3 linked regions of the Homo sapiens genome follow. The protein of the gene in region 3 purifies or fractionates together with the protein of the main gene of each other region. This does not show direct contact. Each region holds a gene or a part of one and is shown on either strand. Other genes may lie near its edges. The genes, in order: ARHGAP18, NT5C2 and PREX2.

The links.
Region 1: the proteins of PREX2 (region 3) and ARHGAP18 purify together in Homo sapiens (affinity purification with mass spectrometry; one large-scale study listed by BioGRID and IntAct). This does not show direct contact.
Region 2: the proteins of PREX2 (region 3) and NT5C2 purify together in Homo sapiens (affinity purification with mass spectrometry; one large-scale study listed by BioGRID and IntAct). This does not show direct contact.

What each region holds. Positions count from the first base shown.
Region 1 is NC_000006.12:129,700,137-129,703,791, reverse strand, and holds part of ARHGAP18 (rho GTPase-activating protein 18), read left to right. Parts: intron 1-3,655. UniProt on the Homo sapiens protein: Rho GTPase activating protein that suppresses F-actin polymerization by inhibiting Rho. Rho GTPase activating proteins act by converting Rho-type GTPases to an inactive GDP-bound state.
Region 2 is NC_000010.11:103,183,200-103,186,854, forward strand, and holds part of NT5C2 (cytosolic purine 5'-nucleotidase), read right to left. Parts: intron 1-3,655. UniProt on the Homo sapiens protein: Broad specificity cytosolic 5'-nucleotidase that catalyzes the dephosphorylation of 6-hydroxypurine nucleoside 5'-monophosphates.
Region 3 is NC_000008.11:68,112,495-68,116,149, reverse strand, and holds part of PREX2 (phosphatidylinositol 3,4,5-trisphosphate-dependent Rac exchanger 2 protein), read right to left. Parts: intron 398-3,655; coding exon 218-397; intron 1-217. UniProt on the Homo sapiens protein: Functions as a RAC1 guanine nucleotide exchange factor (GEF), activating Rac proteins by exchanging bound GDP for free GTP.

The sequences.
Region 1 (3,655 bases), on a different chromosome or scaffold from region 3:
TCAATTTCATGACATAAGAGTCCTTTGTAAAGGCATTTTCTTCACTGTGGTTTAAAAACCCTATCCATAGTTTCTTCTTGAATTATTAGAGGTTGCACCCGGTGTCCAACTGGGGAAGTCTTAGGTTCATTCACAGACATGTGATATTTGCCTTTTGATTCCTCTCATTGACGAGACCTGTGATTTTTGTGGGCCTATTAAAGTTATATTATCTTCATAGAACTTTTAATTAAGTTTATGCCTTTCGAATATAAGGATTTAGAGATTATCAGAACCATCCCCACCCACACCTTCCTAGAGAAACTTGTTGAACATTTGCTTTGTTGTCCACGGCACATTTATTACTTCTGCATTGTACGATTGCACTGTGCTGCCTTGTCTCTTCTAAGTGGGGCTTGCTTTCATATTTTATGAATTTTCTAATATTTTGAGTTCTGTTATTATTTATCATACTTCTACAAGTGTTGAAGCAATAAAGACTCGTAACAATTGATGCATTTAATGATGCACATGATTGCTACTGGACTGCATGGGTGTTAGGCTTAACTCGTTTTTGATAATTGGACTCATTGCCAGAACAAATTATCTGTTTCACTCTTCTGTTTTAATTCCCCACTGGCTGTAAACATCTGTCTCACAAATTAGAAAAAGAACCCAGCACCCTAGAGGCCAAGGCTGTCCCTGGCCACAGGGATAGTTCCCTCTACTCCTTGCTCATGAATCTGTGAGGTCCATGCCCTGTGGCTGTCTTCTTTCTCCTGCCTCTTTTTCTTCTTCTTTTTTTTTTTGTTTTGGAGATGGAGTCTCGCTCTGTCACCAGGCTGCAGTGCATGGCGCAATCTCGGCTCACTGCAATTTCTGTCTCCTGGGTTGAAGCAATTCTCCTGCCTTAGCTTCCCCAGTAGCTGGGATTACAGGCGTGCGCCACCACACCCGTCTAATTTTTGTGTTTTCAGTAGAGACGGGGTTTTGCCATGTTGGCCAGGCTGGTCTCGAACTCCTGACCTCAGGTGATCCACCCGCCTAGGCCTCCCAAAGTGCTGGGATTACAGGCGTGAGCCACTGTGCCTGGCCCTCCTGCCTCTTCTTGATTCTGTTCTGTCCAAGAGCCCTGAGAAAGCTCTGTCATCATCCTAGTGGTGTCACTGTGATGAGGCCTGTAGGCTGTGGGTCTCAGTGGGAGTCACTAACAGCATGGATCACTCTGTAGGTTTGGGGTTGCTAGACCAGGTATGACAACAATCCTCTCCTGAACCCTGCTGTAGGTGCCCTCTGTCCTGTGCCCACCCTTTCATTTCATACGAATATTTTGAGAGAGATGGTTTGTTCTAAATGTTTTATTCAGTTGATATTTAATGGGCTTTTCTATTTTCTTTCGATAAAAAAGGGATAGAGAATAAGAACTCTCATTATTTGAGGAGAGTGGGGATGAGTCAGGGTATTGGGCATGGATTAGGGCAGGAGGAACGGAAGGGATGTCTAGATCTTTCTGAAGGCACATTCTTTTGACTTCCATGTTTGTTGCTGTGAGCTGGCCAAGTTTATCCTTTTTTTTGCAAGAAATAAACAGAAACCATGGAGACCCGTGTGACCAGTTACTACCTGTAGTTTTTTTCCATACTTAAGTCCACTAAGTATCTGAATTTCTGTGTTGAAAGAGAGTATGAAACCTCATCTCCTTTTCATATGCATTTGGTAGTTGCCTTTTGGCTGCAAAGAACACTGAGGTTTCCTTATGGGAAATGAGGTTTGTTACAGGGATCTGGGTCATAGGGAAAGGAGGCATCTCTTCTTCCCTCAGCAGCTGGTCATATGGGGACACTCATGGCATTTCTGTTCTCTTGGAGACTCTCAATTCTTTTCTACCCACTGGCTTTCTAATCTCATCATTTCAGCTTGAGCTTTTGGCTCCTGATGGATGCCCAGCCTGGTTACCTCCTGAGTCATCTTACATTTCATAGCTAACTGACCCATCTCTTTATTTCCTAATTTCAGTTTTTTGTTTTTTGTTTTTTTTTATTTGAGATGGAATCTCGCTCTGTCACCCAGGCTGGAGTGCAGTGGCATGATCTCAGCCCACTGCAACCTCCACCTCCCAGGTTCAAGTGATTCTCCTGCCTCAGCCTCCTGAGTAGCTGAGATTACAGGCACCTGCCACTACGCCTGGCTAATTTTTGTATTTTTAGTAGAGATGGGGTTTCACCATGTTAGTCAGGCTGTTCTCGAACTCCTGACCTCACGATCTGCCCACCTCAGCCTCCCAAAGTGTGGGGATTATAGGCGTGAGCCACCGCGCCCGGCCTTAATTTCACATTTTTGAAAGGACATCAGATTTTTCCAGTTAATCTTTTTGAACAGGCCATAGTACAACCCCAGGCAGCTTATGATCTGGCTTGTTCTGGATCTTTTTAGAAAAGCAGGGTCTGTGGGTAGTGAGATTCCTGGACAAAGGATGTGGCATCTTTGCTAAGATATTTAGGACATGACACATTTATCTGTTTCCTCATTTATGAAATCATATCGTGTAATGATGCCCTTCCTGCTTCGCAAAGTTAATCATGAAGATCAAATGTGTAACGTTTGAGAATGTTAAAAAATTATGCAGATGAACATTATTACTAAATCCTTTTCTGTACAGTATCTTAAAATTTCCCCAGACATTTCACTTCATTTCACTTAACCAGAGTTGTCATAGTAAACTTTTGAGTTTAATTTGAATTTTACTTTTTTATTATATACTCAGATGTAAGTTCATTGAGGGTGAGAACTTTGCCTGTCTTTTTTTTTTTTTTAAGGGAGGGGTGTTCCTTTATACCTAAGCCTTGGCAAAGTGCTTAGTTCACTTTAGGTAGTTACTAAAAGATTGAATGAATGAATGAGTGTAAGTGGGAGGAGGCGTAGTGATTGCATACACAGATTTTGGAGCTAGATTGCCTGGGTTGAAGTCCTGCTTCTTTCATGTAGCAGCTTGTGACTCTGGGCTATTTAATGTTTCAGGGCCTCAATTTTTTTGTTTCCTTCTGCACACTGGGAATAATAATACCTAACTCAAGACTTATTTTAAGGATTGACTGAGTCAACATATGTAACATACTTACATGAGTGCTTGACATAAAGTACGTGTTTTCGATGATGATAAAGGGCAGTCAGACTGTTACCTGTTGGTGAATTAATTTGGAAATAGTATAGGAAAGCATTGTTGTGATTAATTTGTAAGTCATTTGGGAAATGAATGTTTGCTTCTAATGCATATGCAGTATAATGCCTTTATTTTAAAACTAATAGTGGGATAAGTTATATAAATAGCTCACATTATTTCAATACTACATTTAATATCCAAAAAGTACCCTAAAAAAGTGTTTAAAGGTATTGAACTCTTGTTAGGCCCAGGTGACTGTTTTGAATACCTTTAATGCTTCAGTTTGGGTAGCTATAAAGTTGCAGAGTGTTTGTTACTCTTAATAAGATGGAAAATCATCTAGTGTAGAGCAAGGAAAAGTTATTTGCACCTGTTCCTCAAAGAGCAAATTGACTTTAGGTTATCTCAATACTTGCAGGTAAAAGTACCAATGTATCATTATAGCTAAGTATTTGAGAAAAGAATAATTGTTATACATTTGTGCCCTTAAAATTTATTTATATAAAACAGCTGTTC
Region 2 (3,655 bases), on a different chromosome or scaffold from region 3:
TAACCTTTACTCCTTATCATCACAAAACACATGAAAGGAGATATATATATATGTGTGTGTGTGATATATATATATATATATATATATATATATATCACACACTCCTTCCCTCCCCTCTTTCCTGAAATTATTAGCTTTTTTTTTTTTTTTTTAACAATCTATCCCTCCTTCTTGGAATTACTAGTTTTAAACTGTTCTTTAATAACTCTAATGAATTTTGAAAAATTCCTGCCCCAAATCCCTCTCAATATTGCCTCTGCATCATTCTTCCTTTCTTTTCTTCTACTGCAAAAATAATTAAACAAATGCTTTTTTTTTTTTTTTTTTTTAAAGACGAAGTCTCTTTCGCTCTGTCTTCCAGGCTGGAGTACAGTGGCACCATCTCAGCTCACTGCAAGCTCTGCCTCCTGGGTTCACGCCATATATATATATATACATATACATACACACATACACACACACATATATATATACTTTAAGTGGGGGTGGGAGGAGGGTGAGGGATGAGAAATTACCTGATGAGTACAATGTACACTATTCAGGTGATGGTTACACTAAAAAGCCAGACCACTGCTATGCTATATATCCAAAACTGTACCCCCTAAATCTATAAAAATTAAAAAATAAAATAGTTTAAGATGAAGAAATGCCTATTTTTCCAGAAGGCTCCTTGAAACTGTTGCATTTAAATTATCTTAAATGTTTCATTACCTCTCATCTTTTAAATAGTTCATGATAAGTTTTTGGTTTTTTTTTTTTTTAGTTTTTTTGAGACAGAGTTTCACTCTTGTTGCCCAGGCTGGAGTGCAATGACGCGATCTCGGCTCAATGCAACCTCCGCCTCCCAGATTCAAGCGATTCTCCTGCGTCAGCCTCCCAAGTAGCTGGGATTACAGGCATGAGCCACCACGCCCGGCTAATTTTGTATTTTTAGTACAGACGGGGTTTCACCGTGTTGGTTAGGCTGGTCTCGAATTCCTGACCTCAAGTGATCCACCTGCCTCCCAAAGTGCTGGAATTACAGGAATGTGCCACCGTGCCCAGCCTATAAACAAGTTTTTTTGTTTATTTTTCATTTCATTATTTTCATTCAGAGTTCTTTATGTCACTTGTCCCAAACTGCACTACACATTCCTGTCAAAGGCCAACACTCAATAGTTCACACACCAAAGTGATGCCAACAGTTAACAAACTCCAACTAATAACATCACACTTACCCACACACATCACTCACTGTCCTCTTACCCTGCTTTACTTGTTTTTTGCACATAACCCTTACATTTGACAGTTTGCATTCTGTCAATCTCTCCAAAATATAAGCTCCATAAGGGAGAGGAGTGTTTTATTTGCTGCTGTATCCCCAGCATCTCGCACAGTAGACTTAACAGACAGAAATAAATGAACCATTAAACGTCTACACATGGAGCCCTTTGCTTTTCAGAAGCCTATTTTTGTGTAAGCCTGAAAATGCAAGAATAACTGCAGAAGTCCCTTTTAATACTCTAAATGAATCTTTGTGAAATCTTATTCTTGGTTCACAAATACATAAGATTCTTGGCTTGATTAACATAATATTTTGCTAACATTTCAACATCAGGCCTCGGAACAAAAGCTTCCTTGTTCTCCGAAGGAAAAATAACAAAGTTGAGAAGAGAGAACTTGTCGAGTGAGAAATGCAGTACCTGTTGCCTTGACAATTTGTTTTTCTTCTTCAAGCAGCTACATGCTCCTATCTGTAGTCTGAAATTGTAACTAGAAACTACAAATTTATTTCATCTGTTCCTAAACTTTTGAAAATATACAAAAAAGACTAATTTTGCTATGTTCTCATCAACATTCTATTGCTACTATCCTGCCATATCACATAGAATGCTATATATTTGTTCTACATCAACACATTAAGGCTGCTTCTAACTGAATGTTTTGAATAATACCGGACCTTCAACAATAACATGGTTATTGACACAAAGGAACAAGAGAGCATGTAAGGAAAACATTTTAAAAGACTGAGCTATTTCTTCAAAACGTTGCCATAATTAACTGAGGTCTTCAAAAGCATAAAGGTATAAACCAGCTGTACAATTTTTACATTCAGACGATATATAATACTTTGCACCTTTAGTAATGACTCCTGAATACTCCTTTAAAAAAAAAAAATACATAGGGCAAGGTGCAGTGGCTCACACCTATAATCCCACCACTCTGGGAGGCCAAGCCAGGCGGATCCCTTGAGCCTAGGAGTTCGAGACCAGCCTAAGCAACATGGCAAAACCCCCATCTCTATAAAAACATGCAAAAATTAGACAGGCATGGTGACGGGTGCCTGTAGACCCAGCTACTCGGGAGGCTGAGGTAGGAAGATTGCTTGAGCCGGGAAGGCAGAGATTGCGTGAGCCAAGATCGCACCACTGCACACTCCAGCCTGGACAACAGACAAAGACCCTGTCTCCAAAAAAAAAAAAAAGGAAAAAAAAAAAAAAGCAGGTAAAAAACTGCTTTATTTCAGGAAAGAACTCATTCTCTTACCAATGAACTCCTGCTCACCATTCAACTTTGGTTTAGCTCTTATTTTTCCTGTTACAAAATAATTTAAAAAGATAAAATCGGAAAGGCATAAATAACCACAGACCACAGTATTTCTACCTTTTAATATATAAATTCATACTTAAGGTTTAGTCCACCTATTTGGTTAAAATTCAGAGATATGCATGAGTTCGATGCCTTAATAATGCTAACATAATAACAGCTGACATTTATTGAGTACTTACTATTTTTCATGTATGATTCTAAGCAGCATAGTACATATTTTAACTCACTGACTTTTCAGAACAACCCTATATGTTAGGTACTATTATCCTCATTTTACGAAGAAGTAAACAGGAAAGAGAAGTTAGATAATTTGAAGTCACAGAATTATACTGTGGTTAAGAGTACGGATTCTGGAGCCACACTGCCTGCGTTCAAAACCTGGCTCTAACACCAACTAGCTCTACGACTAAGCAAATTATAAGCACTACAGTTTCTTCCATTGCAAAACAGGTAGAGTTGGAACAAGGATGTAAGGTGCTAAGAACAGTGGCTGAGACATGGAAATTGGTCAATATAAACTGTTTATAATGCTTGAGTGCAAGATGTTTGAATACTTGAAGCCTTAGCACAATACAGTACTTGATGTTTGCAGGAATGAGTAATAGGCTTCTACTTTTGGAGTCAAAACCTCATAGCGTCCATTACGTATCAGAGGCTGTAACAATTTCACACATTTATCACGTCAATTAAAGTATCCTAAATATAAGGACAACTATAGCTATAGGTTTGTTTCCTTTCTTCCTGGAAGCTCTCAGACCTAGAGAGAATTAATTCAAGATTTATTTCACCAAACCTACTTCAAAAGTAAACGAGTAATTCAAGGCTTAAAAAAATGGCATTTACTGGCTGGGTGCGGTGGCTCATGCCTGTAATCCCAGCACTTTGGGAGGCCGAGGCGGGCGGATCACAAGGTACAGAGATCGAGACCATCCTGGCTAACACAGTGAAACCCCGTCTCTACTAAAAATACAAAAAAATAGCCAGGCGTGGTGGCACATGCCTGTAATCCCAGCACTAGGGAGGCTGAGGCAGAGGAACAGCTTGAACCCGGGAGATGGAGGCTGCA
Region 3 (3,655 bases):
AAATGCTTTTTCCAAGCTACTCATATTAGAAAAGGGAAGGATTTGAAATATTACATTGTCCCACTATGCTTTGTCTGAGGTCGGTAGTAACAGGTGATTATTGTGAAAGACCAATTAAAAGAAAAACAATCAAAAACTTTTTTCAAGATCTTTGTGGAAAATCCAGCATCATATTTGACTTTGTTAAGAAAATGAGTTTGAGGAATTAGTGAATTACCTGTAAGAGTCTCTGTTGCTGATGGTGTCATGACCAGAATCTTCCTGTTCATCTCCTGCTACATTAAAACATACCCGTTTGCTGTTTCTTTCTCCCTTCTCATTGTCACTGTCTGTTGGTATTATGCCCTCTGATGTCTTACGTTCTAATTTAGGAGAATATGTTATTGAAGACAGAAGGCTGCAATGTAATATTAAAAAAAAATGCACATTTTCAAACTGTCTGCTATATATAACTACCTTATTTGCTGAATACAATAGGCTTACAAATATTTCTAGAGTGCTTCAATGTTTCATATCAAGTAAATATTCTATTGCATAAAAAGCATGTCATTCAAAGTTCTCTTGTTCTTCACAAAATAAGTCATACAAACAACATACAATTTAGACCAGAAAGCTTCATTGAAATACAGGTTGTGCCATGTATGACTATAGCTAAAACAAAGCTGTGATAGTTTTGTTTGACACTTGTGAAATGGAGATAATGAGAATAACTGGCTTCCATGACTGCTGTGAGAATGAATATTCCTGGTGCATAATGGGTGTCACCTCTAGCCCCTGGCCATTAGCACAACCATCACCACCTTATGAAAATACTCGGTAATCAGCCGGGTGTTGTGGCTCATGCCTGTAATCCCAGCACTTTGGGAGGCCAAGGCAGGCGGATCACCTAAGGTCGGAAGTTCGAGACCAGCCTGACCAACTTGGAGAAACCCCGTCTCTACTAAAAAATACAAAATTAGCCGGGCGTGGTGGCGCATGCTTGTAATCCCAACTACTCAGGAGGCTAAGGCAGGAGAATTGCTTGAACCCAGGAGGCGGAGGTTGTGGTGAGCCGAGATCGTGCCATTGTACTCCAGCCTGGGCAACAAGAGCGAAACTCCAACTCAAAAAAAAAAAAAAAAAAAAAAAGAAAGAAAAGAAAAGAAAGAAAAGAAAAACAGAAAATACTCAGTAATCTTTAAAGTGCTAGCCAAATATTAAACCCAAACTATAAATGGGCCTTCATGTCCTCACTGGCTCATATTCAGTATTAAAAACCCACCTACCCTCTATCTATGCCTTGGGTTTTGCCCAGGCATTCCCTATTTGGCAGGGAGAATATTGGATTGTCTATCCGTCTCCCTGCTCGTACAAACAGGAGTCTTGGCCTTGGGGATTACAAGACACTAAACAGAGTTACATACAATGTGAGGATGGGGTAAATCTGCAAGCCAGCCAGGATGAAATGTCCCAAATCTGCCCACAGAAAGAGCTCCTCCACCTGGCTCCAGGCTAAAATGCCGCAGTCAGACTGAACTGTGTGAAACCTGCTGAGGACTTTGAGTAGCTGCTGACTCCAACACTCTAGGCTTGAACATTTGGCTGTGGCATGTTTCTGTTACAACTAACTCAAAATTAGGCAAAAATGGAATTGAACTTTATTATCAAAGAGCATGCTAAAAAACTTGCAAAATGAATTAAACCATGTATAAACAAAGGACCCATATAGGGCTTCTCAAGCCAGCAGCCATCTTCGCATTTACTAAATACCTGTGATTTTCAGTTCCAATCAGTAGCACATATCTTGATTCTCATTTTTCCATAGCAATGTAATGTTTGTTATTTCAAGACGGTGACGATATCTTATACCTCTTACGCATATTCCATAATGTCAAACCCAATGCTGTGCATTGAATAAATACCTATTAAGTGATTTCACTAAACACATTTATTATACCATGCACTGTTCTTGGTGCTGTGGATATAGTAGTTTATAAAACACACAAAAGGGCCGGGCGCGGTGGCTCATGCCTGTAATCCCAGCGCTTTGGGAGGCCGAGGTGGGTGGATCACGTGAGGTCAGGAGTTCGAGACCAGCCTGGCCAACATGGTGAAATCCCGTCTCTACTAAAAATACAAAAATTAGCTGGGTGTGGTGGTGGAAGCCTGTAGTCCCAGCTACTCAGGAGACTGAGGCAGGAGAATCGCTTGAACCCTGGAGATGGAGGTTGCAGTGAGCATAGATCACACCACTGCACTCCAGCCTGGGCAACAGAGTGAGACTGTCTCAAAAACCAACCAAACAAGCAACAACAACAACAAAAACAAAATACAAAAGCCCCTGCCTTCTTGGAGCTCAAATTCTACTGAGAGAAGACAAGTAAAAACAAGTAAACTTTCTAGTATATCAAATGGCAGCAAATGGTAAGGAGAAAAAGAAAGCAGGGAAGGAAGCGTGAAGCTGCCACTTCAAACAGTGGTGCAGTCAGGTCAGGTCTCACAGCGAGGTGAGATTTGAACAATATTTTGACATTTTATAGGTTTTAGACACCAGTGAAAAATTGAAGGAGCTATGTTACATTGCTTGAGGCCCTGTGAACATTTTTAATAACCAAAAGCTATGGATGATTTTAAACACAGTTTTTCTCTTTGGAAAGATACTTTTATGTCCTGTAAGACAGATTGTCTATTTATTCACCCTCTCCACCCAAAAGATTAAAACATTAGACTAACTCCAATTATCCAAGCTCCATGCTGCACAGACAGATGAACTCTGAATACCAAAGAGGGAAAAAATGCAGGAGTTCTCATTTTGCCAAGAGGCCTCTGTGCTTATGTATCTTTTAAATTAGAAGTCATGGGGCTAAGCATAATTTTTTTCAAAGTTATATGAATTGTATTCAGATATTTGCTTTTTATTTAAAACAGCTGCAATCATGCTTGCATTGACCCCGTGGGACAAGTGTTAGGCTTACAAACAAATGATAGAAAAACTGTATTTTTAACACCATGTTTTGCATAAAATTTCTAGATTCTGAAAAGCAACAAGGCATCAAACCATAATATTTGTGCTTGCAGAAATCCCTTCACTTTCATTGGTATAAAATATTAAGTTACCTACTAGAGGTCCATTAATTAAAACCTTCAGCAGCATGCAATTCCAGGTGAATCTTCTCCTTGTGCCATTGATAAGAAAGATTTTTGTATACAGTATGTTGCAATGACCTGTGTGTTTTTAAACATCATCATCATTGCTAACATCTGTTCAGCTTTCATGACAGTCACGATGCTAAGTCCTTAACAGGTATGAATTCATTTAATCTCTAAAACCACCTTATGAAGTAGGTATTATTATTTTCCCCATTTTAGAGGTGGGGTAGGCAAGACATATTGTTACATACATATCCTGTGCAAATTAAGCAGGATTTCCTCTCCCTGCATCTAACTTGCACACTCTGGAGGGAGTAGGGTGCATCCCGGTGTTTCATAACTCAACTCACAGAAGTACTGTGAGAATGAAATAAGCCAATGTATATAATAATGTAATCTTGCCTGGCAAATAAGCATCTATAAAAAAGTTGGCTTTTATGGTGTGCCCCTCTTGTTGTACATTTAGTAGCAAAATGCTTGGGGAAACCTCAGTGATTACTCTACCACCACCACCACCACCACCACC